Linked DNA regions of Homo sapiens: region 1 is linked to region 2. The links come from fine-mapping of genetic effects on gene expression. A gene starts in region 2. The other region holds a variant in brackets. All regions are shown on one strand. Distances are between the middles of the regions.

Region 1 (15,326 bases), 29 kb before region 2:
GGATCACAACTCCTCACCAGCAAGGGAACAAAACTGGACAGAGAATGAGTTTGACGAATTGACAGAAGTAGGCTTCAGAAGATGGGTAATAACAAATTCCTCCAAGCTAAAGGAGCATGTTTTAATCCAATGCAAGGAAGCTAAGAACCTTGATAAAAGGTTAGAAGAATTGCTAACTAGAATAACCAGTGTAGAGAAGAACATAAATGACCTGATGGAGCTGAAAAACACAGCATGAGAACTTTGTGAAGCATACACAAGTATCAATAGCTGAATAGATCAAGCAGAAGAAAGGATATCAGAGATTGAAGATCAACTTAATGAAATAAAGCATGAAGACAGGATTAGAGAAAAAAGAATGAAAAGGAATGAACAAAGCTCCAAGAAATATGGGACTATGTGAAAAGACCAAACCTATGTTTGACTAGTGTACCTGAAACTGATGGGAAGAATGGAACCAAGTTGGAAAACACACTTCAGGATATTATCCAGGAGAACTTCCCCACCCTAGCAAGATAGGCCAACATTCAAATTCAGGAAATACAGAGAACACCACAGATACTCCTTGAGAAGAACAACTCCAAGACACATAATTGTCAGATTCACCAAGCTTGAAATAAAGGAAAAATGTTAAGAGCAGCCAGAGAGAAAGGCTGGGTTACCCACAAAGGGAAGCCCATCAGACTAACAGCAGATCTCTCGGCAGAAACCCTACAAGCCAGAAGAGAGTGGGGGCCAATATTCAACATTCTTAAAGAAAACAATTTTCAACCCAGAATTTCATATCCAGCCAAACTAAGCTTCATAAGCGAAGGAGAAATAAAATCCTTTACAGACAAGCAAATGCTGAGAGATTTTGTCACCACCAGGCCTGCCTTACAAGAGCTCCTGAAGGAAGCACTAAATATGGAAAGAAAAAACTAGTACCAGCCACTGCAAAAACATACCAAATTGTAAAGACCATCAACACTATGAAGAAACTGCATCAACTAACGGGCAAAATAACCAGCTAGCATCATCACGATAGGAAGAAATTCACACAAAATAATATTAACCTTAAATGTAAATGGTCTCAATGCCCCAGTTGAAAGACACAGCCTGGCAAATTGGACAGAGTCAAGACCCATCAGTGTGCTGTATTCAGGAGACTGATCTCATATGCAAAGACACACGTAGGCTCAAAATAAAGGAATGAAGGAATATTTACCAAGCAAATAGAAAGCAAAAAAAAGCAGGGGTTGCAATCCTAGTCTCTGATAAAACAGACTTTAAACCAACAAAGATCAAAAAAGACAAAGAAGGGCATTACATAATGGTAAATGGATCAATGCAACAAGAAGAGCTAACTATACTAAATATATATGCACCCAATACAGGAGCACCCAGATTCATAAAGCAAGTTCTTAGAGACCTACAAAGAGACTTGGACTCCTACACAATAGTAGTGGGAGATTTTAACACTCCACTGTCAATATTAGACAGTTCAACAAGACAGAAAATTAACAAGGATATTCAGGACTTGAACTCAGCTCTGGACCAAGCAGACCTAATGGACATCTACAGAACTCTCCACCCCAAATCAACAGAGTATACATTCTTCTCAGAACCACATTGCACTTATTCTAAAATTGACCACATAATTGGAAGTAAAACACTCCTCAGCACATGCAAAAGAACGGAAATCATAACAGTCTTTCAGACCACAGTGCAATGAAATTAGAACTTGGGATTAAGAAACTCACTCAAAACCACACAATTACATGGAAACTGAACAACCTGCTCCCGAATGACTACTGGGTAAATAACGAAATTAAGGCAGAAATAAATAAGTTATTTGAAACCAATGAGAACAAAGACACAACATACCAGAATCTCTGGGACACAGCTAAAGCAGTTCTTAGAGGGAAATTTATAGCACTAAATGCCCACAGCAGAAAGGGGGAAAGATCTAAAATCGACATCCTAACATCACAATTAAAAGAACTAGAGAAGCAAGAGCAAACAAATTCAAAAGCTAGCAGAAGACAAGAAATAACTAAGATCAGAGAAGAACTGAAGGAGATAGAGACACGAAAAACCTTTCAAAAAATCAATGAATCCAGGAGCCAGTTTTTTGAAAAGATTAACAAAATAGACTGCTAGCCAGACTAATAAAGAGGAAAAGAGAGAAGAATCAAATAGACACAATAAAAAATGATAAAGAGGATATCACCACTGATCCCACAGAAATACAAACTACCATCAGAGAATACTATAAAAACCTCTATGCAGATAAACTAGAAAATCTAGAAGAAATGGATGAATTCCTGGACACAAACACCCTCCCAAGACTAAACCAGGAAGAAGTCGAATCCCTGAATAGACCAATAACAAGTTCTGAAATTGAGGCAGTAATTAATAGCCTACCAACCAACAAAAGCCCAGGACCAGATGGATTCACAGCCAAATTCTACCAGAGGCACAAAGAGGAGCTGGTACCATTCCCTCTGAAACCATTCCAAACAATAGAAAAAGAGGAACTTGTCCCTAACTCATTTTATGAGGCCAGCATCATCCTGGTAACAAAGCCTGGCAGAGACACAACAAAAAAAGAGAAAATTTTAGGCCAATATCCCTGATGAACATCGATGCAAAAATCCTCAATAAAATACTGGTAAACCAAATCCAGCAGCACATCAAAAAGTTCATCCACCACGATCAAGTCGGCTTCATCCCTGGGATGCAAGGCTGGTTCAACATATGCAAATCAATAAACATAATCCATCACATAAACAGAACCAATGGAAAAAAATGCATAATTATTTCAATAGATGCAGAAAAGGCCTTTGATAAAATTCAACACCCCTTCATGCTAAAAATTCTCAATAAACTAGGTATTGATGGAATATCTCAAAATAATGAGAGCTATTTATGACAAACCCACAGCCAATATCACACTGAATGGGAAAAAGCTGGAAGCATTCCCTTTGAAAACTGGCACAAGACAAGGATGCCCTCTCTCACCACTCCTATTCAACATAGTATTGGAAGTTCTGGCCAGGGCAATCAGGCAAGAGAAAGAAATAAAGCGTATTCAAATAGAAAGAGAGGAAGTCAAATTGTCTCTGTTTGCAGATAACATGGTTGTATATTTAGAAAACCCCATCATCTCAGCCCAAAATCTCCTTAAGCTGATAAGCAACTTCAGCAAAATCACAGGATACAAAATCAATGTGCAAAAATCACAAGCATTCCTATACACCAATAATAGAAAAACAGAGAGCCAAATCATCAGTGAACTCCCATTCACAATTGCTATGAAGAGAATAAAATACCTAGGAATACAACTTATAAGGGATGTGAAGGACCTCTTCAAGAACTACAAACCACTGTTCAAGGAAATAAGAGAGGACACAAACAAATGGAAGAACATTCCATGCTCATGGATAGGAAGAATCAATATCTTGAAAATGGCCATACTACACAAAGTAATTTATAGATTCACTGCTATCCCCATACCATTGACTTCCTTCACAGAATTAGAAAAAACTAATTAAATCTCATATCTAATTAATCCCATAATTAATGGGATTGACCCAGCAATCCCATTAAATTTAATATGGAATCAAAAAAGAGCCCGTATAGCCAAGACAATCCTAAGCAAAAAGAACAAAGCTGGAGGCATCACGCAACCTGACTTCAAACTATACTACAAGGCTACAGTAACCAAAACAGCATGGTACTGGAACCAAAATTGATATATAGACCAATGGAACAGAACAGAGGCCTCAGAAATAACACCACACATCTACAACCATCTGATCTTTGACAAACCTGACAAAAACAAGCAATGGGGAAAGGATTTCCTATTTAATAAATGGTGTTGGGAAAACTGGCTAGCCATATGCAGAAAACTGAAACTGGATCCCTTCCTTACACCTTATACCAAAATTAACTCAAGATGGATTAAAGACTTAAATGTAAGACCTAAAACCATAAAAACCGTAGAAGAAAACCTAGGCAATACCATTCAGGACATAGGCACGGGCAAAGGCTTCATGACTAAAACACCAAAACACCAAAAGCAATGGCAACAAAAGCCAAAATTGAGAAATGTCATCTAATTAAACTAAAGAGCTTCTGCACAGCAAAAGAAACTACCATCAGAGTAAGCAGGCAACCTACAGAATGGGAGAAAGTTTTTGTAATCTCTCCATCTGACAAAGGGCTAATATCCAGAATCTACAAGGAATTTAAACAAATTTACAAGAAAAAAACAACCCCATCGAAAAGTGTTTGAAGGATATGAGCAGAAATTTCTCAAAAGAAGACATTTATGGCCAGGAGCAGTGGCTCACGCCTATAATCCCAGCACTTTGGGAGGCCGAGGCCAAGGTGGGCAGATCATGAGGTCAGGAGATCAAGACCATCCTGGCTAACATGGTGAAACCCCATCTCTAGTATTAATATAAAAAATTAGCTGGATGTGGTGGCACATGCCTGTAGTCCCAGCTACTCGGGAGGCTGAGGCAGGAGAATCTCTTGAACCCAGGAGGTGGAGGTTGAATTGAGCTCAGATCCCACCACTGCACTCCAGCCTGGGCGACAGAGCAGGACTCTGTCTAAATAAAAAAAATAAAAAAAAAAAAGAAAAGAACACATTTATGCAGCCAACAAACATGAAAAAAAAGCTCATCATCACAGGTCATTAGAGCAGTGCAAATCAAAGCCACAATGAGGTACCATCTCACGCCAGTTAGAATGGCGATCATTAAAAAGTCAGGAAACGACAGATGCTGGAGAGGATGTGGAGATAGAGGAATGCTTTTACACTGTTGGTAGGAGTGCAAATTAGTTTAACCATTGTGGAAGACAGTGTGCTTATTCCTCAAGGATCTAGAATCAGAAACACCATTTGATCCAGCAATCCCATTACTGGGTATATACCCAAAGAATTATAAATCACTGTACTATAAAGACACATACACACATATGTTTATTGTAGCACTATTCACAATAGCAAAGACTTGGGACCAACCAAAATACCCATCAATGATAGACTGGATAAAGAAAATGTGGCACATCTACACCATGGAATACTATGCAGCCATAAAAAAGGATGAGTTCATGTCCTTTGCAGGGACATGGATGAAGCTGGAAACCATCACTCTCAGCAAACTAACACAGGAACAGAAGACTAAACACATGTTCTCACTCATAAGTGGGAGTCGAACAATGAGAACACATGGACACAGGGAGGGAAACATCACATGCTGGGCCCTGTCAGGGGGTGGGGGGCTAGGGGAGGGATAGCATTAGGAGAAATACCTAATGTAGATGATGGGTTGATGGGTGCAGCAAACTACCATGGCGCATGTATACCCATGTAACAAACTTGCACATTCTCCACATGTAGCCCAGAACTTAAAGTATAATAATAATAATTTTAAAAAGAGGAAATTAGGGCAGAGACAGGCACAGAGGGCCCCCTGATAGTGTCCTCTACCTTGAATCGCCTCTTCAGATGCAGTCATGTTCTGAGGGCCTGAGGGTCGAGGCTGCAATGGCAGAATTTGGAGGGGACCGTCAGCCCCTCTCACAGCCCTCCTCCTTTTCTGACTTTTACAATAGCTTTCTGTGCTTATCTGCTTGTACACTTTGGGGTTTGGGGTGAAATCATGTTTGGGAAAAGCTTTGCTTCATCACAAAGGTCTGGAAACCCTGAGATGGACTGAGGCTCTGCCTCTCCATCAGCTTGGGCTTGGAGCTTCCCTTTGCAGACCCCATGTGGACAGGAGCTGGTGGCTCCAGGACCCAGTGGCTCCAGGACCCAGTCTACAGCCACGGTCTATGGAGGCGGCTCTTCAGTGGGGCTGAGGCCCCCAGGGTGTGTCCCTCCGTGAAGTGTCCAGGCATCAGCAACCCCCTGCCCTCCCAGCCAGCCAGAGCAAAAAGCTTCTTGGTTTCCCCTTAAGCCAGAGAAGAAGGCTGTTTCCACTCAGCAGTACTGTGGCTCTTCATGGCTCTTCCAAAACCATGTCCTGTCTCCTGAAGCCCAAGTCAGGAAGAGCAGGGGTTTAAGAAGGCCTGACTCACTCTGCAACCAAGCTTGTCCTGCAGTTTGCTGGGTGCTGGAGGCCTACGTGGGCTCTGCTTCTGGGATGTCCTCCCAAGCCACAGTGGGAACAGGACCTGGCTGTGGGAGCTGGGATCCATGGAGGACACGTCCTGCCTGTCTAGAAGCTGAATCTCATGTTGTGATGTCCTATTCTGGCCCACAGAAAAACAGGCTGACTCAAATAAGGATATTGAAACAGTCTCCCAAATCTTCCCACTTCAATAGCTTAAGTTGGGCTGGTTGGGGCTGAATTGGCCAGTGGTTTAGGCAGAGCACATAACAGAACTTTCATGACTGTTATCTCATTTTACTGAGTGACCATAAGAAAGGGGAGATGAAACATGTACGAATCTCTTGTAACGTTTGTAATTTACCCCTCTCCTGAAGGACACGGCTCCTTTTCTCAGAAACGTATTATATTATCCTACAGAGCAGAGGAAGACATTTTCTCAGCAACAAAGAGAACTGGGGCAGGAGTGAATCTGAAGAAGACGGGAAAAGCAGTATCAGGATTCAGTTCTTAAGACTTCAGGAATAACTGCAGAGTTAAACTGAACACGACTACCCGGGGCTGTTTGATGCACTTTGCCTTGGACTCTGGGGCAACTTCCCTCCTGCTCCCTCTGTCTTCACATGACTAATGGAGAAGGGAAGGAGGTGGAGAGGCTGCAGGGCACAGTGGGGAAAAAGCTTCCTGCTATCACGAAGCACAGACGATAACAACAGCTAACTCCACGGGACAGCCACCTTGGCATTTTCAGA[C/T]ATGGTAGCGTTCTCCCCCAGGGCCCTGTGGCAGATGGGTGGCTAATTCCTCAGGACATACACACTGAAGAAACACAGAATCTGCCTCAAAGCCCGGACTCCCAGCTCTTCAGGAGTAAGATCTCTACCCTCCTCGCTGTGCAGTTTCCACAAAACCATCGGCAGTGAGGAGACTTCAAAATCACCCTTGTAGAAAGAAATTAATTAATTTAAGATAAATTAAAATAAAAAAACAAAATCACCCTCATGTCAATTCCAGCACTATAGCAGGAAGCTCTCAGAGTCTTATTGAGAAATTTCTTTCTAACTTGTAAGAAACATCCTTATCCATCCAAACCCAAAGAATGGACTCAGGGACACAGAGAACAGAAGAAGCGAGACTTTAATGGCAGTCTTGCAAGATTGGGTGTCTGGCATGAGGCACACCCAGAAGGGCTTCAACAAGAAATTTACTCCCTAGTGCACAAGTCCCTCCCCCAGTTCCTCATTGGCTGAGTACTACGAGGTTACAATCTTCCTGGACGTCGAATATTGGTAGTTGGATTAAGTTTTCGAGTATGTTCATTAGGGTCTTTCTGCTGCATTTTATTGCATCCCATAATGCATTGTGACTGTCTCAGGACTCTTCGAACATTTGACGTATGGCCCTAGATGGCTGTGCTTTGCTGATAAGAAAGGATAAAATTATCTATGTTGCAAGCTAGCCTAAACTAAATTCTTCGGTGGGGTGGGGAGGGGGTATTTAAGGGGGCCCTGACCGATAGGCACCTGGCTGCCAAGTGAAAGGAGAAAGCAGGATGGGGGCAGGGGTGGCTCAGTACATTCTGCTTCTTTATCTCTTTATTTCCACATAGCCTGCTTAAACCTATACTAAGACACTTAAAATTAAAAATGGACCACCACATATAGGTTATTTTTTACATAACTGACACCCGGTTTTGAGTATCTTATATTATAATCTGTTTTGCTTGCATTCTAGTAAGTCATTTCCCCAGTAACACGATTGCAGACTCCTTAAAGGGAGAGACATGCCTTATACACAAAACCTGACACAGACAAGGAATTGGTCAATCATTCCAATAGTATTTCTTAATAGCATCATTTTCTTATTTAGTTTGTCTCACAGTTTCTTCTTCATACTTTGTGAAAGAGTGGCTAATCAAATTTCTCTCATAGACTTTATTTATTTATTTATTTATTTATTTATTTTTGAGATGGAGTTTCACTCTTATCACCCAGGCTGGAGTGCAATCGTGCGATCTTGGCTCACGGCAACCTGTATCTCCAGGGCTCAAGCAATTCTCCTGCCTTAGCCTCCCAAGTAGCTGGGATGAGAGGTGCCTGCCACCACGCCCAGCTAAGTTTTGTATTTTTAGTAGAGACGGGATTTCGGCATGTTGGCCCAGCTAGTCTTGAACTCCTGACCTCAGGGGATCCACCTGCCTTGGCCTCCCATAGAGCTGGGATTATAGGCGTGAACCTCTGTGCCCGGCCTCTCTCACAGACTTTAAAAACACATTTGTGTGAAGAATAACATTAGGAGACCATTGTGTAAGCAGGCCTGTGAACTAGGTATCTGCTGTTTAGGAACACTGAAGAAGGCAGTCTAGGGAGAAATGGGTGCCCGTGCATCAGAAGGGAAAAGGGGGCTGGAGAGAAGTTTAGAGGTGGAGACAAAATGGCTTTGTGGCACAAAGGGCAAGGAAAAAAGCGAATTAGGGATGACTCCTGGGTTTATGGTTGAGCTGGTGGTGCATAAGGGATTGGATTTTGTCATGATGAGGTCACTTCTTCCAAGAGCGTCACTGAGTTCAGTTTCTGGGGAATGGAAGGCCAGAGTGGAAATGTCATGATAAAACAAATTGCAAGCCAATTACCCTCCTCTCCCACAGCCAAGCGAATATCTACATTTAACAGGCTTTTTAAAACTTCATCTATGTAGATTCTGAGTAACTGGGAAAAGGAATCTCTTCTGAGGTCCTGATTGTTCTTACAACCTTAACCTGTAATCGCATCTACGCAGCCCACTTTCACTAGCTTATAAAGCAGTTGAATATTCCAGTTGCTTTGAGTCAAAACCCAAAGCAAGATTAGACTTCATCGATACTTCAGGCACGATGGCAACAGGTATTCATCATATTTAAGCTTCCCTTTCTTGTTCCACAGAACTTAAAAAGCTAATAATTTACTTCTGCAGTCTCTCCTACTGCAAGGACACCATTCCAACCAAGCAAAGATTATGGCAGGTCAGAACGACGAGCACGTAGGTAAGAGTCAAATAATTTTCATTTAAATTAAGCCAAACTTTGTAATTTGCTTTTTGTGCCTTACTTTTATATTTTTATTTTTTGCACTAAACAATATTCTTCAAAAATGATGCCAAAAAACCCTGGTACTGTTGTTATTATTATACTTTACTTTGTCTATTTTTGGGCACTCTTTCAGGAATGGAAAGTAGATCTGAAACTATTTTTGGCCTGAACCATGTCTTGTTAAGATGCAGATCCTGATTCAGTGGGTCTGGAGTGAGGCCTGAGGTTTGCGTTTCAGATGAGCTCACAGATGCCACCCTTGCTGCTGGTCCTCGGGCAACACTTTGGGTAACAACCTCCAGGGGTGGCTGGGGGGCCGGGAAACCCTTCAGAGCTGCCCCACTGAGGCAAGGCTAGTTTTGTGCCCCTACAACCTGCATCAAGTGGTAACTGGATGGAGGCTGCCCCTGGTGAGGCAGCTCCTCGATTCTGTACACCACCAAATTGGGCATTTCCAGTTAATTAAATCCAAATCTATTTTGAGTGCAGTCCGGGCACAGTGGCTCATGCCTGTAATTCCAGCATTTTGGGAGGCTGAGGTGAGCAGACTGCCTGAGCTCACGAGTTCGAGACCAGCCTGGCCAACATAGCAAAACACCCTCTCTACTAAAAAAATACAAAAAAGTTAGCCAGGCATGGTGGTGCACACCTGTAGTCCCAGTTACTTGGGAGGCTGAGGCAGGAGAATTGCTTGAACCCAGGAGGCAGAGGCTGCAGTCAGCCGAGATCGCATCACGCACTCCAGCCTGGGTGACAGAGTGAGATACTGTCTCAAAAAAAGAAAAACAAGAAAAAGAAAAAAGAGTGCAGTTGTGTGGGGGAAGGAGAATGACACTTGGAGCCAGAAGACCTGGGTTTGAATCTTATCTCTGCCACTTAAGGCAGCAGCACCACGTGTTCAACTTAAATTTCTAATATTAAATCCACAGCATATATCACCTCAATCATATAGTTTCCAAAATCATCAAGTGACATATTATGCTTGTAAAGATTTTGCCAAGAATTCTTAGTGGGTTCTCATGACCTTAATTGTAATCAAATCCAAAACCCATACTATATTTTGTGTAGTCCTATTTTTTGTAACAAATAGAGCTATTACACAAATGCAAAAGTGTTGTGTATGTATGTATTATGTGTAAATAGTAGCAAGATGATAGATAATGGATTGGTAGATGATAGATAATAGATATAGATAGAGAATACATAGATAATAGATAAAATAAATAGTTATAGACAGGTAGATGATGGATAAATAGACAATGGATTATATGGATGATAGATATAAAGATAATAAATATGGGTAGATAATAAATAGAAATAATATTATAGAAGAGAGATTTGGAAAGCTAATAGCTATAGACAGATAATAGATCGATGATAGATAAAGGTAAATATATGATCATTAGCTAATAAGAAATAATTAATTCCCTTATTGCCTTATACACTTTTGCCTATCTGGGCCGTGAGTGTGGCCTGCAGCCATGTACCTGTGCCTAGCCCATGTTTCTCATCGTCCGAGCTTAGGGGGCAGCTGGTGAGCTGAGGTTGTCATTCCCCCTGCAGGTGAGAAGGGTCTCCATTCTGCAGCTCACTCTCCCCGCCTCTCCATCACCCTCTCCTTTTTCTGGCTGTGGAAGGGACAGGAAGGGCTGAGAGGTTGACCACATAAATGAGGTTTGATTGGAACTGTTATGCTTGGGTTTCCTGGAAAAAGACTCTGAGGAAGAGGCTATGGGGCAGGCTCTGGGGAACCCCTCCTGGGGAGGAAGACAGTACCTGCAAGTGGTCCTGACAGCTCCCATGGGGGCTCAGGACTGAGCAGGCACTTCAGAGCAACCCCACTGAGGCAAAGGTGTGGGGCTTGTGCCCCCAGACCCAGTGGTACCTGGGCAGGGCTCCCCTGCAGGGCCACCCCAGGCACTGCACAGAGGCTCCCTGTGGGCCTCAGCCACCCACACTCCCACGAGCTGGACACAGGGTATCTGGTTCCTAATGGGCACCACCTTGCCTGGCACAGGAGGGGACAACATCTCAAGGCATTGATGGGCATCACACCGATGCTACCATGAAAGCCACGGCTCCTCAGAGCCCCACACACAAGACAAGGGCCACAGCTCCTCGGCACTGTCACCCAGGACTGCACAGTGTGGGTTGGGACTCACAGAGGTTTCTCTTGAGTGGGCACTGCCAGTCTTTAGGCACCGTTGAGATCTTGCTCTTGATTTAGCTCTTACGAGATGCAAGCCAGGCAGAGGTGTCTGTAGGGAGTTGGCGTGACTGGTGTGATTGGCAAGGTCCATGTGACTGGTGAGGTCGGTGTGCATCCTAGGAGAGAACCAGAGGTGGGCATCCCTCATGCTCTACCCAGAGCCATGCACTGCTATGCCAAGATGGCGTCCTACAGCCCAGCACAGAGCCACAGGTAGGATGCAAGTAGGACTCAGGTAGGATGCAGGTGGGATGCAGGTGGGACTCAGGTGGGACTCAGTTAGGACTCAGATGGGATGCAGGTGGGACTCAGGTGGGACTCAGGTAGGATGCAGGTAGGATGCAGGTAGGATGTAGGTGGGATGCAGGTAGGATGCAGATAGGATGCAGGTGGGATGCAGGTGGGACTCAGGTAGGATGCAGGTAGGATGTAGGTGGGATGCAGGTAGGATATAGGTGGGATGCAGGTAGGATATAGGTGGGATGCAGGTAGGATATAGGTGGGATGCAGGTAGGCTATAGGTGGGATGCAGGTAGGATATAGGTGGGATGCAGGTAGGCTATAGGTGGGATGCAGGTAGGATGTAGGTGGGATGCAGGTAGGATGCAGGTAGGATGTAGGCGGGATGCAGGTAGGATGCAGGTGGGATGCAGGTGGGACTCAGGCAGGATGATAAAGGTGGGACTCAGGTGGGATGCAGGTAGACAGAGTGCAGGTGTGTGCACTCAGCTATGTCCATAGCACACCCTGGACCTTAGCACCATGCCTGGAATGCCAGAATACGATGGGTCCCAGAGGGAGGGTAGCATTCAAATGAAGACTACGAATGTCACATGTGCTTAGCCTGTGTGCCTGGAAAATCCCCTAGTGTCCTGCACCAGCTGGCCCGGGAGGGAAGAACAGGCAGCTCTGCAGGCCGCGCTCTGGGGACCGAGGTACCCGTGAATGAATCCACGTGGATATCAGAGAGACTGAGCCTTCAGCCCAAAGCCCAGCTCCTTCACTGGCCTGTTGGGCAGCTTTGTGCCCTTTCCTCAATCTCTCTGAGCCTTAGTTCTGTCCTTATAAGCAATGTGTCGGTGCAATAATAATTCCTGCCTTGATGGTCCTGGAATGACTGAATAAGATCTAGTTCCTCGAGTCACCCGATTAGGTTTCCTTCCCTTCCTTTTCCTTCCTAATCTCAGAAAGAAAGGGATGGGAAAAGCAAAAGGAAGGAAAATGCTGGCAAAGCAAACGTAGGTGTGTGGCACCTGGCACCCTCGCAGCGAGCGTGGCTATGGTCTGTAGCAGCAAAGAGCCCCACAGCCACGCCCAGCTCCGGGAGAGGGGCCAGACTGGGACCTGGGCTCTGAGCCCCCGTGGCTAGCGCGGCACCTGCACTCCTTGATATGTTCAGGACACCTCAGCATGGAGGGGGGCCGCACTGTGCCCCCCACCACCGCCATCCTGCCAGCCCAGCAGACTCTAGGGACTGGGCCTGACCTTGCCAGCAGCGCCGGAAACCCAGAGGCAGCCTCCTCCTCCCCAGCACGATGCCTATGCACGAGGGCCTGGGTCCAGGATGCAGACGGGGCCACTGCTGCACTCTGCAGCGGTGCGGACCGGGAGCAGCTGCCTAGTGGCCCCTGCAGGGGGTCGGTCTTAAGCCAACTGGTCCCTCTTCCTCTTGTTCAACTTCCTGCCAGGAAGCTTGGAGGGCAGCTGTTATTCACAACTAAACATCTTAAAAAGGAATGACTTGGTTCTTAGTCCTACCCCAAATGGGTCAGGGTTTTCTTTCCTCCTTTGAAATGGCTTTGGCGTTACAAGGGCCTTTCTTATCTGATTGTTGCATTAATATGATCCTTGAAAATGGACCGAAGGAGAATGAGGATAAACGTTTTGTACCAAAAAAGCACTAATTTCAGTTGAGATAGGATTTTAAGTTTTAGAGGAGAGAGGAGTGGAAAACAGATAATATAAAAAACGAAAATGTGAATACAGATTTAATCCCAGTGAGGCTAGAACGTGCAGGGCTTGGCCTCGAAAGAGGCAGAGCTGCGTGCTGACTCACCAGAGGGGCGTGCGGATCCTCCCAGGCCGCTGTTGAGGAGTGTTGTGGGTGGAGGCTCCACTCTGGGGGGACTGGCTTCCCGAGTTTGCCTTCCTTGCTGTCAGCATGGCCTCACGGCCCTGAAGAAGCAGGGCCCCCAGCCAACGTAAATGTTAACACCGTTGTAGGGATTATAGCCGCTGGTTTTCAATCGTGCTTTTTTTTTTTTTTTTTTGAGATGGAGTCTCGCTCTGTCGCCCAGACTGGAGTGCAGTGGCGCGATCTCGGCTCACTGCAAGCTCCGCCTCCCGGGTTCACGCCATTCTCCTGCCTCAGACTCCCAAGTAGCTGGGACTACAGGCGCCCGCCACTACGCCCGGCTAATTTTTTGTATTTGTAGTAGAGACGGGGTTTCACCGTGTTAGCCAAGGTGGTCTCGATCTCCTGACCGCGTGATCCGCCTGCCTCGGCCTCACAAAGTGCTGGGATGACAGGCGTGAGCCACTGCTCCCGGCTCAATCGTGCTTTTACAAACGCTCTGGATGCTTTTGAAGTTCATTTGAATTCTATCCCTCAGATAAATGGACTCTCCTGAGAAAGACAAACAGTTTCCTAGGCTCACTAGCAACAGCACAGTCCTTGGGTGGTGGTTGTTATTGTTGCTGTTTGTTTTAATATTTACCTAAGGTCACAGTCACAGCTTGTAATTTATTATATCTGAATTATTTAGAGTGATTATTAACTGTCGATCTCAGGGCTTAATGTTAATGAATGCTTCTGGGAAATGAACAGAATGATAAATTCAGGCCGATGCAGGCACCTCCCCACTTTTATGGGAAGAAGGGCCCCACACTTGTGCTCTGCACCCGGGAGGAGGCCTGACCCATCGACTCGCTTCCCGTCCTCGTGTCATTACAAATCTCTGCCTGGTTCCTCACACAATAACAGAGGAGATGGCTGAAACGCTGCCTTCTGGGCGTTTATAAACCACAGTCGCTGCCTATTTTCAGGCGGAAACGCTCCAGGAGCTGAGAGAGCTGTGCTGCCCTGTGAGGCTCCCATCCTCTTAGTCACAAGACTGCTGTCTCCCCTGGGGACCACACGCTGTGCAAATCCGCCATCCATCCATTACCGTCTACACGCTGTGCAAATCCACCATCCATCCGTTACAGCCCATTATCAGATGGAAGCCTTCCAGCCCCCTGGTGAGAAGCCAGAGAGCACTAATGTCCACATGGGGACAAAATTATTGACCATGAACTGAGGAAATGTATTTTTTTTTTGCTTCTTCCCACTTTGACCGGAATTACTAACTTGATCAACATGAAATTAAAATGAAACACTTGGGGAAGAATCTCTTCAAGTCCATTTTTTTATCACTGGGCTGAGACCATATTATGCAGTCACAATGCCAGGTTATTTCAACTTAGCCGAATTAATGAATCTAACTCAGTCCTGGGCTATATTACCCATCTGTTTTAGGATATTATAAGAGAAAGTATGTGACTTTTTCACCAAGTTACACATGAGAAAATTAAGACGAGATGTCCAAGTTCACAGTCATCTCATCATGATGGAACAGAGGGATAATCACAGGAAAATGTAGGTGCTTCCCCAGAACACTGAATTTCTATGTAATCAGGTAAAATTAGGCCATCTCGGTTGTCACCTTCCTGCACAGGATGTGGAAATAGCTGTCATTTATAAAGAAGGGGCCGTGCAGAGGGGCAGAAGCCACTGGAGAGCAGCTGTGGCTGGCGCTCACTTCTGGGCTCCTGGCGGGGTCTCAGCCGGGTGGTAAGTGCAGCAGTGGAAAATGGCCTGGACTCCTCGCCGGGGGCTCTAACCTCTTCCCTAGCTTGGCTATCATCCTGAGTCAACACCGCTGGGCCTCAGTTGCAGGTCCTGTTG
Region 2 (15,326 bases):
ACCTAGTACTATAAAACTGAAGGTATGTAAATCTGCCCTTGGAGAAATGTTAATTGGACACGCTAAATGGGAACTGGTAAGATTGCCTGAGCCCACAGAATATAGAGTAGAAGCTGGAGTGCGAGCTGGAACAAAACCTCCACTTCATAGTCTTCCGTGGAGTGTTCATTGGGGCTTGTGGCAAAAGGCTGTGAGCACTTCCCAATGAACTGCTGGGACTTTGGACTCGAGAATTTCCACCTGAGGGGCATTTTCTGGCTTGCTGTGGGATGTTAAGTGAAGCTAACCCCATGCTAATGGAATCAATGGTGCCCAAAAGAGTTGTATGGTAAAACAAAAATGGTTTATATAGGATATGGCTGCCTGGGGAATGCAAGGAGGAGATACTCAGGAGCAGGGAGCCTGTTTTTCCCCTAGGAATGACTCAATGTGAGGAGCTGCTGGGTTCTACAGTGCCTGACGGCTCTCATCTGACTGACAAGAGCTGCTTAGCGTATGACAGCTCCAAGGCGAACACACGACATCTTGTTTGGAAGCTGCTGCTCTGGTTCAGGAAGACTCAAGGAAAGCTTTTTCTTTTCTTTTTTTTTTTTTTAATTTTTAATTTTTTTATTTTTATTTATTTTTTATTTTTTTTTGAGACGGAGTCTTGCTCTGTCGCCCAGGCTGGAGTGCAGTGGCACAATCTCGGCTCACGGCAACCTCCGCCTCCCAGGTTCAAGCGATTCTTCTGCCTCAGCCTCCCGAGTAGCTGGGATGACAGGCACACACCCACATGCCCGGCTGATTTTTGTATTTTCGGTAGAGACGGAGTTTCACCATATTGGCCAGGCTGGTCTCAAACTCCTAATCTCATGATCCACCCACCTCAGTCTCCCAAAGTGCTGGGATTACAGGCGTGAGCCACCGCGCTCGGCCGGAAAGCTTCTTCTTTTGAGTTATTTATAGTTTAGAGCAATCGGGTAAAGTAAGTTTTTATGAGTAAGTGTACCTTTCTCTCTATCTGAATTCTTCAAAATTCAGACACTATTAGCGAATATTCTGATTTTATGGCATTTAGTTGTTTGCATAGGTTTAGTAAGAATGTTTTCTTTTGAAATGGGACACAATTGGAGACCCTGGTTATTTTACCAAGGCTTTGACTGGAATAATATATTTTTAGGTAAAGTTCCAGCAAAGTCAACTTGAAAGGGGCCGGTATGGCCAATTGGTTCTTGCTGCACTTTATAATCAGGGAAGTATAATAAGCCTAAAACTTGTTTTGCACACAGATTGGTCTTACTACAATTTCTCTTTAGTAGAAAAGGAAGGCTAGAGAAAGGGAAATTTTTTCAAAGGAAAACTATACTACACCCATTACTAGATTCCAGCCCTGACTTTTGTTTGTTAGTGTGGATTGAATCATGAATTATTTCTTGGCTATAATAATCCTCTAAAGATGAGCCAGGTTATCATTTTCTTCGTGATGCTTTTAGTCAGTGCCCTAATGGAATAGATTCCTTTTTCTCTTCTGACACACACATTCTCTTTTGATTGTCAAATTATTAATGTTGTTTATCTCTCTTTGTTTTACTTCCGAGGAAACCAGAATATGGTATTCTGAAAAATAGAGGTGCAACTCTCCCTCATTGGCATCTCACTGGGCCCGAGCTGTTTTTCACTGCAAATACCTGCTGCTAAAATTATACCAGCACTCTTCCTCTAGGCCCACGACTGTCACAAATGAGGCAGGCATGTGAGATTGTAAGGGCCAATTTAGGGAGACAGAATTCATTCAGATCCTCCAAATCAAGGTTGGGCAGAGATGCCTGAATCAGTGGCAAAAAAAGGGACTTTGCCTCCTGGGTTATTATGTGGCCTGTTTTCATCCATCTCAACCATAAAGAATTTACTGTTTTCCATAGAATTCAAAGAAAATTACTGAGAATATATAAAGACACCTCATGACAAAGCCTCTTGGGTATAATACTCCCAGTTATGAGATTTATACAATTAGATATATCTGCATAAATTTATATATATACATATGTATGTATTTGTGTGTGTGTGTGTATACATATTTATACATATACAAACAGTTTGGTGGAATTTTAAGGGTTGATGAGTGCCCATCCACCTCCATTCCCTTCTGGCCTAGAATGTTTAAATTGGCTGTGAGTCTTTTGACTCTAAGCCCCTTGGCCATAGGGGTCCCACTGAGGGTCACAATGGACCCAGGACAGGCAGCCGAAACACCCAGTAACGCTATGGGACAAAATAAAAGTTTGGTGGCCATTGATGTTGCCTCTGGCAAGTCTTGGCCAGAGGAGGAGAATATAAACCAAAAATAAAATTCCAAGTTCCCCAACCAACTGAATGGAAGGGCATTCATTCTAAAGTAAACTTGAAACATTAGTTCAGGCCATGATGAGAATGGGTGGTCAGACATGCCTCATACCTTCCTGCCTTTGGAATTCAGGCACAGCTGACCAGCATTCACATTAAAACAAGAACTTAAGGCTGACAAAACAGACCCTTCGTAGCCATAAGATACCGCTGTAATGTCAGATAGCAGGCCCTGATAGAAATCAAAGTATTTTACCCCTTACCTTAAGCCATGTATCCCTTGCTATTGATTCCAGGTCTTTTACATAATAACTCTTTTAACCAGTCAGAAAATCTTTGAATCCACCTATGATGTGGAAGCCCCTGTTGGAGTTGTCCCGCCTTTCCAGATTGAACCAATGTACATCTTACATGTATTGATTGATGTCTTCTGTCCCTCTAAAATGTGTAAAACTAAGCTGCACCCCAAACACCTGGGCACATGTTCTCAGGATCCCCTGGGGCTGTCACAGGCCATTGGTTATTCATAATTGATTCAGAATGAATCTCTTCAAATATTTTAGAGTTTGACTCTTTTTCTCAATAATTGGCAGATCAGCGCAATGGCTAAATGATGAGGGAGAACTCTAGGAAGCTTTTGAAAAGGCTCAAGAGGAAGACAGAAGTCTTCTTTGGAAACAATACAGTAGAGGAAAAGGGAGGGGGCTAGTATTTTGCAAGACGAAAAAAATCAAAAGTTTGCAGGACAAAAAATTCTCTTCTCTCACTGTATGCCCCCCACCCTGCTCTAAAAAAAATTATGTTTTCCAAGACTGACCAAAAAAGAAGCTCATAAACTGGCATCTTTTAAACCACTCTATCTTGCCATCCTTACGCACAAAAATGCAGAGACATAGTCTTCATCTATACAAAGGTTCTGGAAGAAAAAGCAGGAAAAAGTCCAAACAATTCAACTGATATAAATTCCCTCACATTTAAAAAAAGCAAAACCCCAGTTACACCTTATAAATCCTTCATCATTCTAAGATAAACTCAAATGGCTTACAATTCTTCCTTATATTATATGAAGTGTTTTGAGCCTATGTTCATGACAATATTGGTCTGTAGTTTTTTGTTCTTAGAATGTCTTTGTCCAGTTTGTATATCAGATTATTAGATTAATGCTGGCCTCCTAAAATGAATTGGCATGTTCCTTACTCCTGTTTTCTAAAAGAGTTTTGCAGGGTTGGGATTATTTATTTTTTGTCTATCTTATAGATTTGCCAGTGAAGCAATTTGGAACTAGAGACTTATTTGAGAGAAAGTGTTAAATTACGAGCTCATTGTTTTCATATTGAGAACTATTCATGTTTTCATTGTGTCTTTCAAAGAATTTGACCATTTCATCCAAATTGTCAAGCTTATTGGCATACAGTTTATTTTTACATTCCACCTTTACCATTTAAGTATCTGGGACCGGTAGTGGTATCCCCTCTTTCGTTACCAATATATAGGTGATTTGCAGTTTCTCTTTTTTCTTTTCTTTTTTTTTTTTTTTCTTTTCTTGAGACAGGGTCTTGCTCTGTCACCCAGGCTGGAGTGCAGTGGCCTGATCTTGGCTCACTGCAGCCTCAACCTCCCAGGCTCAAGCCATTCTCCCACCTCAGCCTCCCTCTCTTGAGTAGCTGGGACCACAGACATGCACCACCATACCTAGACAATTTTGTTTTTTTTGTTTGTTTGTTTGTTTGTTTTGTATTTTTTGTAGAGTCAGGATTGTGCTATGTCACCCAGGCTAGTATCCTAGTATCGAACTCCTGAGCTCAAGCACTTTTTGTTTTCTTAATCAGTCCATCCAAGGTTATTCCATTTTATTAATCATCTTAAATAAAACACCTTTGATGTCATTGCTTTTCTCTACAGCTTGTCCATTTGCTGTTGTCTTGACTGCCAGTCTTACCTGTGTTGTTTTCAACCTTCTCCTGATTTGGCATTTAACCTGCTGAGCCCCTTTGCCTCTTCTGGCCTGTGTTGCAGTCCGGAAGCCACCTCCAGACAGAAAGTTTGGGTGAGCATAGGGCGTGCCCATCAGCTTCCATTTTCTTGGGACCACAGTCCTGCTCGGCCTGTTGTCTAAATTCACAAACCGTGTTTTGGTTTTTTAGATTTTTATAATGGGAGGGTGATTCCAGCCCCTATTGCCCCTTTAGAACCAGAAGTAGAAGTCGTCATCCTCTTTCTTGAAGCTCCAATCCTGTCACATGCCACAGTGCTCCTGGTCCCCATGAATGTTATGATGATCAAGTCCAATAGGCAAATGGTCCCCCAAGGCACTGACTTCAACATAACCCATCACAAGTGCTTGTTTGATTGATGATGAGCCACAGAGTGGCATGGATCACCAGTGTCACTGACCAGAAACTCATCACGACAGTCAAGGCCAAGGACATGACCAAACCAAGCCTAAATTACCATGTTTCCCCTAGGACCTTTCAGTACCAGCAGGGACACAGTCAGTAGGCAGAAGCTACCTATAATTTTGAAGGGATGATCTTAAAGAATTGTTCACTAGAGACTGAAAAACCAAACACGTACAAAGGGAACACTAAGGTATTAGAGAAGAAACAACTGCAAAAAGAGCCGCCACCCCGGGCACGGGGAACAAAGGAAGGAAGTTAAAACTATTGAAATTTAGGACCAGTGGGGACGACTAGAGTGTAATTCAGGCCCCTGAGGGGGCTCCCAGCCAGTTAGTGGCCAGTGTCTCCAACAGGAAACAATGGGTCTGGTTTTTCAAGTGCTGGGAAAACTGCAGAAGTCCACTGCTGCTACAAGGTGGAGAAAGTTGCTGCGGGCCAGGCATGGTGGCTCACAGCTATAATCCCAGCACCTTCGGAGGCCAAGGCAGGAGGATTGCTTGAGATCAGGAACTAGAGACAAGCCTAGGCAATGTATCGAGACCCTATCTCTATAAAGTTAAAAATTTAAAAATTAGCCAGACAAGCCTCTGGTAGCCTGGCACTTGGTGCATGCCTGAAGTCCCAGCTACTCAGGAAGCTGAGGAAAAAATGCTTCAGCTTGCAAGTTGGAGGCTGCAGTGAGCTGTGATCATGCCACTGCACCTCAGCCTGGCCAACAGAGTGGCATTCTGTCTCAAAAAGAGAGAGAGAGAGAGTTGCTGGGGCAACTCTGACAGGGAGTGAAAGTGAAGCTCGAAAACATAAAGGAAGATGGACTAATTGGAAAGAGTCAGACAATTGGAGGGGTAGGGGAACTGGAAGGAGTGGGACAATAGGAGGGGTGGGACAATTGGAAGAGTGGGACAGTTGGAAGGGTGGGACAACTAGAATGGTAGGACAATTAAAAAGGTAGAACAATTGGAAGGAGTGGGACAATTGGGAGGGTTGGACAATTGGAACGGTGAGACAATTGGAAGGGTGGGACAATTGAAAGAGTGGGACAATTAAAACTGTGGGGAAATTGGAAGGGTGGGACAATTGGAAGAGTGAGGCAATTGGAAGGCAGTACAATTGATAGGAGTGGGACAACTGGAAGGAGTGGGACAACTGGAAGGTGAGACCATTGGAAAGGTGGATCAATTGGAAGGTAAGACCATTGGAAAGGTGGGTCAATTGAAAGAGGGGGACAATTGCAAGGGAAGGGCAATTTAAAAAGTGGGACCATTGGAAAGAATGGGGCAATTGGAAGGAGGGGGACAACTAAAAGAGTGGGATAATTAAAAGGATGAGGCAATTGGAAGGCTGGGACAATTGGAAAGAGTGGGAAAATTGGAAGGGTGGGACAGTTGGAAGGCTAATGCAATTGGAAGGTGGGATAATTGGAGGGTGGGACAACTGGAAGGAGTGGGACAAATGGAAGAGTGGGACAATTGGAAGGAGTGGGACAAATGGAAGAGTGGGACAATTGGAAGGAGTGGGACAATTGGAAGAGTGGGACAATTGGAAGGAGTGGGACAAATGGAAGAGTGGGACAATTGGAAGGAGTGGGACAAATGGAAGAGTGGGACAATTGGAAGGAGTGGGACAATTGGAAGAGTGGGACAATTGGAAGGAGTGGGACAAATGGAAGAGTGGGACAAATGGAAGAGTGGGACAGTTGGAAGGAGTGGGACAATTGGAAGGGTCGGGCATTTGGAAGGGTGGGACAGCTTTAAGGTGTAAGACAAGTGGAAGGCATGGAACTTATGAAAGGGTGGGATGGACAATTGAAAGGAGTGGCACTATTGGAACTGTGGGACAACTGGAGGGAGTGTGGCACTTAGAAGGGTGAGATATTTGGAACGTGTGGGGCGATTGGGAGCACTTCCCCCACACCCCTGGGCCATCCTTGAGTGACCACCCACTGGTAGGGCCTCCCAGAGCGGTGGCAGAGCCCAGGCATGGTTTACAGAGCCTCGGGCACCTGGCAGCTCGGATCCTGGTTTAGGAAGGGAGGATTTGAAGCTGAGACACAACTCAGCAAGCGGCACTGCTGCCTGTCAGATACCAGCCCCGCATGGACGTCAGACACCAGCGCGACACATTCATCAGACACCAGCATTGCACAGACGCCAGACGACCTGTGTGCGGCCCCTCCGTTTTGGGGATGGAGGATGCCGGTGCCCTGGGGGATGCCTGCTGATGTAGTGACAGGTCAAAGGCCACGTGCGGGAAACTTGCTCTCACTTGGTCCGCAAGAGGAGAGGTCAGGCGGACTGCGCAGAGTGGGAAACGCTCCGGAGCAAATCCGTGCTGTTTCTGCACTCTTCTCTACCTCGGAGATTTTTCTAAAGACAAAGATGAGAAAAGAGTTGCTAGGGCCTGGACTCGGGGAGGAACAGAGGCCAAAAAATGACCTTGTTTTCCTTCTCTTGGCACGTCAATTGCGATCTCCCTTAAGGCAGGGCACTGGAAGGAAAGGCACGGTCTGAAACGGGACTTGAAATCACTGAGTTCACGAGGTCTCCCGGAGCCTGACGCTGCTGTATGTGTTTGATTCTCCTCGGCCGGGGACCGCGCGGCAGCTTCTTGACACCGGCCATCTACTCTGTGCCTGCGAACGAGGCAGGAGGGACGGCCTCACGCACATCCCCGCTCCTCCCCGCGGTCCCACACTGCCTGGAGAGCTGGGGCCGGCAGCCTGTGCTCTGCGGAGAGAAAAACACATTTTTGCTGCAAGGACAAGTTCCGCCGGTAGCCCGGCTCTCAGCCGGCCCCTCCGAGGCACAGATGGAAAGAAGTGGTCCCTAAAGGGCCCTACAGGGCTTGGTGTCTCTGAGCCAGGAGTGCCAGTGAAGTCACAGCTTGGCTGGGCTCCACCCAGAGATCTCGTGGTTTCCTCTGCCTGCCAGGCCTGCCTGGAAGGCTGCAGGGAGGTTCAGGGTTTCTCTTGCTGTCCACACCTGGGCGAGAGCTGAGCGGAAGAGAAGGGGTCCTCAGAGAGACACCTTCCTGACCGGCCCCATTCCAGCTGGATGCCATGTGACTCGGAGGAGCTGGTGGACACTGAACAGGAGCCGCCCAGAGGCTCTGGGGACTGGAGCCCTCGGCCGCGGCCAGGATAGATCCAAGGCCCAGGGTCAGAGCAGGCAGGGCTCGGCCAGTCCTCTGCCCCAAACGGTGAGTAGCGCAGGTGGCTGGATCAGGGTGGGTCTCTGGGGCCGGCCCAGGCGCTCGGCATTTTCTGGGCTCTTTTGCTGGCCAGATGGTGGCAGGGGTGGGGCGTGGGCAACAGCAGATGCTATCAACAGGGAGCTCTCCAGGCTGCAGCCTCCGCCCTCTGACGGGCCGCACCACCTGGTCCGCAGCCAGCCCTGGGCTGAGTCTGGAAGAGGACGATAGCTTGGGTGATGGCTCCCCAACCCCCCACCCCCGGTGGCTCTGTCTCCTGTCTGCCTTGCTTCCTCCATGATCTAGAGTGTTCCCTGCAGGTGCAGACTCTCAAGGGGAGTCATGGGGGCAGCCGGGGATAGGCCCTCTCCTCCCTGCCACACCTGGGTGCTCAGCCTCAGGGCTTCTCAGTATTGGCTGTCTGGGCGGGACACAGAGCCACTCCTGGACCACCCAGGGATGGGGAATGCTGTGCCTCCCTCCTCTTCTGTTCCATCGTCCTTCCCCGCCTCCTCCCCTCCTTCTCCTCCCCCTCCTCCTCCTCCCTCCTGTTCTCTTCCATCGTCCTCCCCCGCCTCCTCCCCTCCTTCTCCTCCCTCTCCTCTTCCTCCTGCTCACCAAGGATGCAACAAACTCCTCTACTCCCCACAGTCCTGTAACCCAACTGTGGCGACCCTTCCTACAGAGCTCTGCCTCCCTCCCGAGCCCCCAGTGGGGCACATGGTCCCACAGGGAGACCTCCTCCAGGGTCACAGCAGAGAGGGGGCAGCAGCAGGGTCTGGCTGAGCTCCGTGGCTCTAACCCCTTGTCCCCCTGTTCTCCTCCCTGTTTCCTTCTCTGTCCCCCATCTCTTCATGCCTCTCCCCTTCCTGCACTCTCCCCTCTCCCTCTATGTCCATCGCTTCCCTGCCATGCTCTCTCCCTGGGGCCCACCCATGAGGCCCGTGTCCTCCTCAGCCATGCAGGAGGTGAGATAGGAGAGGGACCATGGCCCTTGGTGGGCCACAGGCTGGAGAAACCCCACCTGTTGCTTTGGGGCTGGAGCTTGCTGGTAGATCCCGGAGATAGCTCCGTCCATGGGTGGACGGGACTTGTGCCTGGGAGGGGGTCCACCATCAACAGACTTAAGACCTCCCAAAACTCATCTCTGCCTCCCTCTGGGCCTGAGGGTTGGTGACCCCCCCAAGCTATCCTGAGTAGGAGAGCATCTGTCCCCCTCCCCACATCTCCCCACCTGCCATGGCAGTGATGCCCCGTCTGCCCCACTCAGGGTGTCCTCCTGATGATGCTGGCCCAGGTGGGGCTCCCTCCACCACCACCTCACCTCCCACCCATGGTCTGCCTTCCCGGGGCCTTGGGTGCTAGGATGGAGCACAGGGACAGGAGGAAGAGCCCTATATCTCCAACCAGGCTTGACTCCACCCGCAGGAGATTCAGACTGGACCACGGGCAGGACTCAGCTTCCTGAGGTGCTGGGACTGGGGCCTCCTCTCCACTGAGCCCCCCACCCCCATGCCCACCCCTGAGGCGGGGACAACCTCAGGCTGTCATTTCACCCCAGTCAAACAAAAGACCACAGAGCTGAGGGTGTAAGCCGAGGGAGATGACCAGCACCTCACGGGGTGGCTGGCACCTCTGTGCTCAGCGATAGCCCCGCCCCGGGCCACCTCTCCCCAGCATCCCAGCACCGCAGCGTCCCCCTGCATGGTCTCGGGTGCTCCTATCACTGGAGGGAGACAGCAGGGGTTCTGAGCACAACCTTGAGGTGGGAAGAAGCCGCTAAGACCAGCTATGGGGGTTTCTGCTTGTACCCCCACCCTCCTCACCCCAAACCCCAGCCCTCCCAGGACACAGGAGGACCAGCCACCACCAAGGTGGGAGGGGCACCTGGTGTCGGCCCCTGACCCCAGCCAGTCTCTGGGGAGAGGCAAGGCCCCATCCCCTCTCCCCCAACCCCAAGAGGAGAAGCTGGGGTCACCAAGCACTCAGAGACACATGACGGGCCAGGTAACCACAGGGGCAGCATGGGGCCGGGTATCTGCAGGCATGTCTCCGGCTCTGAGCACCTGGCAGTCTCCTAGAGTCTATTACTTGCTGTATTTCTGGCAAAGCTGTGATGAAGACTCCGATTCCAGCCTAGGTCCCCTGGGATTTGTGCTGCCTCCCAGGACTCAGTACCCCTCCCGCAGGACCTGTCCCCGTGAGCCGACTGCCTTGGGAGGGGATGGAGGGAGGCTGGAGACGCCATGGAAGCTCAGGGCCCCTCCCAGCCCCATCATCAGACAGCTCCCTCTTCTCCCCATGGGGAAAGGGCGGGCAACGTTGAGCAGGATGCAGCCTCCTCATGTGCCCCCTACCCTGCAGAGGGCTGGAGTCCTGCTGTAGGACAGCAGGGACATGGCCAGGGGAAAGGGAGTTTTCCTGTGGCCCTGATGTGGCTGCATGGTGTGACCAAGCTGGAGGGCTGGGGACTGGGAGCCCACTGGCAAACAACCCCTCATGGATGTCAAGGAAAGGCCTCAAAGAGTTGAGGGCTGCTTTAAGATGATGACGAAAAGCCCCACAGCCACTGTAAGCTGTCCCTCTGTGGTCACACCACTCATTAGACATGGGCGGTGCCTCCTGCTCTGCCTATGACTTTAAAATAAGTCATATTTTATTCTTTGGGAGTCCAAGGCAGGCGGATCACGAGGTCAGGAGTTCGAGACCAGCCTGGCCAATATGGTGAAACCCTGTCTCTACTAAAAATGCAATAAATTAGCTGGGCATGGTGATGCACGCCTGTAATCCCAGCTCTTCGGGAGGCTGAGACAGGAGAATCACTTGAACCCGGGAGGCAGAGGTTGCAGTGAGCCGAGATGGTGCCATTGCACTCTAGCCTGGGGCAACAGAGCCAGACTCCATCTCCAAAAAAAAAAAAAAAAAAAAAAAAAAAAAGCCCATTCTGAGGATCAAGGCACCACTAGCAACAGGGAGCCCCATGGGTCTCAGACCCTCTCCCCACATCTCCTGGTCCCTGCCCCCACCTGGCCTACAGGGACCAGCCCCACGGAAGGCTCTTGAGGCCAGGTAACCATGGGGAGGGGAGGAATGGGGACACCTTCCTCCTGAGTGTCTTAGGGAAGAGAAGCTTAGGTCAGGTGGCTGAGGGTGGAAATGAGAGAGGGGTCTTCTCCTGGAGGGTCTCACCATTCCCTTGGTCACCCACCCAACTCTCATCTCCCCTGATGTGGGGAGGAGCAGGGGGCATGGATTCCTGAGCCCCAGACTCAACTGTTGTGGTTTACAGGGGCATCAGGAGAGAGAGCGAGCAGAACACACTCCTGCAGCATCCCCTGGCCCCCCGCCCCATGATGGAGCCCAGAGAAGCTGGACAGCACGTGGGGGCCGCCAACGGCGCCCAGGAGGATGTGGCCTTCAACCTCATCATCCTGTCCCTCACCGAGGGGCTCGGCCTCGGTGGGCTGCTGGGGAATGGGGCAGTCCTCTGGCTGCTCAGCTCCAATGTCTACAGAAACCCCTTCGCCATCTACCTCCTGGACGTGGCCTGCGCGGATCTCATCTTCCTTGGCTGCCACATGGTGGCCATCGTCCCCGACTTGCTGCAAGGCCGGCTGGACTTCCCGGGCTTCGTGCAGACCAGCCTGGCAACGCTGCGCTTCTTCTGCTACATCGTGGGCCTGAGTCTCCTGGCGGCCGTCAGCGTGGAGCAGTGCCTGGCCGCCCTCTTCCCAGCCTGGTACTCGTGCCGCCGCCCACGCCACCTGACCACCTGTGTGTGCGCCCTCACCTGGGCCCTCTGCCTGCTGCTGCACCTGCTGCTCAGCGGCGCCTGCACCCAGTTCTTCGGGGAGCCCAGCCGCCACTTGTGCCGGACGCTGTGGCTGGTGGCAGCGGTGCTGCTGGCTCTGCTGTGTTGCACCATGTGTGGGGCCAGCCTTATGCTGCTGCTGCGGGTGGAGCGAGGCCCCCAGCGGCCCCCACCCCGGGGCTTCCCTGGGCTCATCCTCCTCACCGTCCTCCTCTTCCTCTTCTGCGGCCTGCCCTTCGGCATCTACTGGCTGTCCCGGAACCTGCTCTGGTACATCCCCCACTACTTCTACCACTTCAGCTTCCTCATGGCCGCCGTGCACTGCGCGGCCAAGCCCGTCGTCTACTTCTGCCTGGGCAGTGCCCAGGGCCGCAGGCTGCCCCTCCGGCTGGTCCTCCAGCGAGCGCTGGGAGACGAGGCTGAGCTGGGGGCCGTCAGGGAGACCTCCCGCCGGGGCCTGGTGGACATAGCAGCCTGAGCCCTGGGGCCCCCGACCCCAGCTGCAGCCCCCGTGAGGCAAGAGGGTGACTTGGGGAAGGTGGTGGGGTCAGAGGCTGGGGCCAGCCGGACCTGGAGGAGGCCTTGGTGGGTGACCCGGTCATGTGCTGTCAAAGTTGTGACCCTTGGTCTGGAGCATGAGGCTCCCCTGGGAGGCAGCTGGAAAGGCAAGGTCTCTACATGCCCAGGCAGGCGGGCCGGGTCTCTGGGGAGAAGGCCGAGGAACGTGCATTTTTGGGAAACCTCCCCAACGGTTCACGCACTGGCACTCGAGAGCTGCTGCTGCTACCCATTCCCTGCTCAGCTGCAGTGAGGAGACCCCGGAAAGCAAGGAAGCAAGGCCAGACGCCAGGTGAGGGGCAGGTCCAGGCCTTTCCGCAGGCCACCTCCCCTCCCACTCCAGCTTCCTCAATGCTGCAGGTGCACCCACAGATAACACAACCATCCCCTCAGCTCGCCTTGTGCCCGCTGTGGAAGCTAAATTGACCCTAAAATGGAAGACTGCCCAAAACTTGACCCCCTCCCCGTCCTTGATCATCAGCCAGTTGCTCAAGGCCGTGCACCTCAGACCGGGACGATGCAACCCTCACTCGGAGCTTCAGAAAAGCCGGCCCCATGGGTGTCCCTGGATATTAGGAGGGTGCACCCTGGGTGGGTGGAGAGGCTTCTTACAGCCCCACCCAGCAGCCTGCAGCCCTGTCTCCCCACAGGACCCAGGTCTTCAGCAACCAGAAAGCTTCACACCGGCCCCATCCAAGGCAGTTCACCCGCCTCTGTCCTGAGCAAGTCCCGCTCCAGAGGATCCCTCTGAGGAAGGAACCCAGGCTTCACCCCTCAACAGGTTTCCGAGCTTCCGCTGAGTGCCAGGCCTGGCTGCCATCCAGGAGCATGTGCCAGGGGTGCTAGAGTGGGGGCTTTGGAGCCCACAGCCTGGGCTGAGCCCCGCTAGCCACCCCACTGTGCTGCCAAGGCCATCTCTGAACATCCCTACGCCTCTGTTTGCTGGTCTGTAAAATATGAGAACCCAGTGCTTTGAGGCCTGTCCAGCCTCTCGTGAGCCCAAGAGAAATGTCTGTCGATTCTACTGCCACCAACGCCACACATCCAAGTCCACAGTGCAATTCTTAGCCACAGACCAAGGCATCTGAGAGTGTTTTCTTTGATTTCTGACTCCGGCCTCCATGGCTGGTGATGGAAGGACATTCCCTCTGGACCATGACTGAACCAGCCCCTCTTGAGTCTGGGTGTGAGTCGCAGATCCCTGGTCAGCACCCTGGAATCCGGCTGCACCGGGCCCCTCCCAGCCCACACAGTGCGTTCACCTCAGGCTCCCGCACGTGCCCAGCAGGCCTGGGTCCAGGTATCCCTTGAGACTGGGAGCCCCAGGGGCTGGACCCACCTCTCCTAGAGCACCTCCAGCCCCCACTTGGGGACTTACCTCCTCCCAAATTATCTCCAGCCCAGGATCTGCACAGGGCCCTCTCTCCCCACCTCCAGGACGTGATTAGCAACTTCAGTTCCTCAGCTGGAGAAACAAGAACAGAAAGGGAAGTGGCCTGTCCACAAATTCCACTTTCAGCCCCAGGACATAAACTTCCCCCAGAACAAGGAAGAACCAGGAGGAAAAGCACAGATTCATCTCACGGACATGACCTCACCGTGGACGTGTTCCCGGGGAATCCTCGTAATAATGTAGGAAGGTGCTCCCACTCTGCAGATGAGCCACCAAGGCTCCGAGGGGCTATGTGGCCGTTCAGGACCACAGGAAAGCTGCAAAGCCAGAAGGTGACTCCCAGCACCACCCTCCCACGCCACACGCTCCGCCTCACTGGACCAGGGCTGGCTCAGGTGTCCTCAGCCCCACACTGGCTCCCCCAACCCTGGCCCCATCCCCACGCAGACCCCTTTGCTGCATAAGGGTTCAGAGAGATTGCGGACCCTTAGAATGCTCACTTCTTCCCAGAGAGCCTGCTCTCAGCATCCAGGGGATTGGAGTGGCTCTAGATTCCTCCTTATTAGCCCCTTCTCGAGGAGTCCGGGAAATGTGGCCTCATCTGAGGTCTCCATGGAAACTGGGCCCAGCTCGTCCCCACTCTAGTAGCTGCTGTGGCAGCAGGTATATGGCCTGATGGCCCAGGATGCTGGTGGGGTATCCCCTTGGCCCCAGATGTGCCAGCTTGGCCTCCAGTTCTGTGGTCCTTGAGCCCTCAGGACATTAGGACCATGTGGGCTGGCCTCCAAACTGGAGGCTGAGCTTCCGTCCAGGCTCCCACCTGCCCCTGCCCAGCCTGCGCCTCCTCTGACCTCCCCCGCTGCACCTCCTCTTCTGCCCCCAGAGCCACAAGGCCCCACCAGGGACCCCTGGCTGCCCTAGACCCCACCCTGCAGGACCCTGGGGCCTCACTGCTCAAAGGCCACCTCCACCTGGGTCGCAGGCAAAGCTCCTCGGTCAGTGCCCAGCCCACCCCATCCACCCGCAACCCCGGGCCCCTGCGGGGCTGCCGCGGTCAGCACAGAATTCCCAAGAACAGGCGGCTACTCCTGGGGGCAGCCAACATTCCAGGGAGCCTGTGTAACCCGCTCCGTCCTCAGGGCCCAGGGAGGCTGTGGGTGAGGACTGTGTGTGTGAGGACAGGAGCGGAGACAGGCCTGCGGCCAGCTTCCCTATCCCCTCCCCAGCGCCCGGGTACGAGTCTGTAAATCAGCCTGCGCTGCATGGCGTCTTCACGGGGAGAGGCAGGCTCACTCCTCAGCTAGTTCATTAGCTCACACGCTGGAAAAATAAAACCAAACATCACACTTAAAACATGACCACGGCTTTAGTTTTGTTGTTCTCATGAAAGCGCGCAATTCTTCCACAGCCCTGATGCTTTTCCTCTGAAACACACCCCATCCCCCCTGACGGTGCCCGCATGATGCCCAGCTGGAGAGAGGCTGCTCCTGGCAGCTCCCAAGGTCATGGGGTTTCCTGTCCATTCCGCCTCCCGCTTCCCCACCACCCCCATGTGTGGCCACTGAAGCGTGTCAGACCTGGTTATTCTAATGAAGGGGTGATTTTCTTTTAGCTATTGGATCTCACTAGCAGCAGAGCCAGTGCGTTCCGA

Alleles and levels. Alleles are on the strand shown, and positions count from the first base shown. SD is a standard deviation of normalised expression in the study named.
In carriers of allele T in region 1, the expression in spleen of the gene that starts at base 7,646 in region 2 tends to be higher than with C alone (large effect, 1.1 SD a copy in GTEx).

The links. PIP is the estimated chance that this variant, and not a neighbour inherited with it, causes the effect.
Region 1: its variant is the best candidate, but not a certain one, in a credible set for the expression of MRGPRE in spleen (GTEx, PIP 0.84).

Annotation. Positions count from the first base shown.
Region 1 is chr11:3,254,147-3,269,472 of GRCh38, reverse strand. No RefSeq gene overlaps it. Among named protein-coding and RNA genes, the nearest start is that of MRGPRE, 29 kb to the right of the region's middle. RefSeq lists an enhancer at 14,194-14,835. The variant C/T (reference allele first, on the strand shown) is at 6,860.
Region 2 is chr11:3,224,737-3,240,062 of GRCh38, reverse strand. It overlaps MRGPRE (MAS related GPR family member E), which reads left to right and starts at 7,646. Exons shown (of 2, transcript NM_001039165.4): 1 at 7,646-7,922; 2 at 11,203-15,033. The coding sequence starts at 11,264. The coding sequence ends at 12,202. RefSeq lists an enhancer at 15,200-15,326.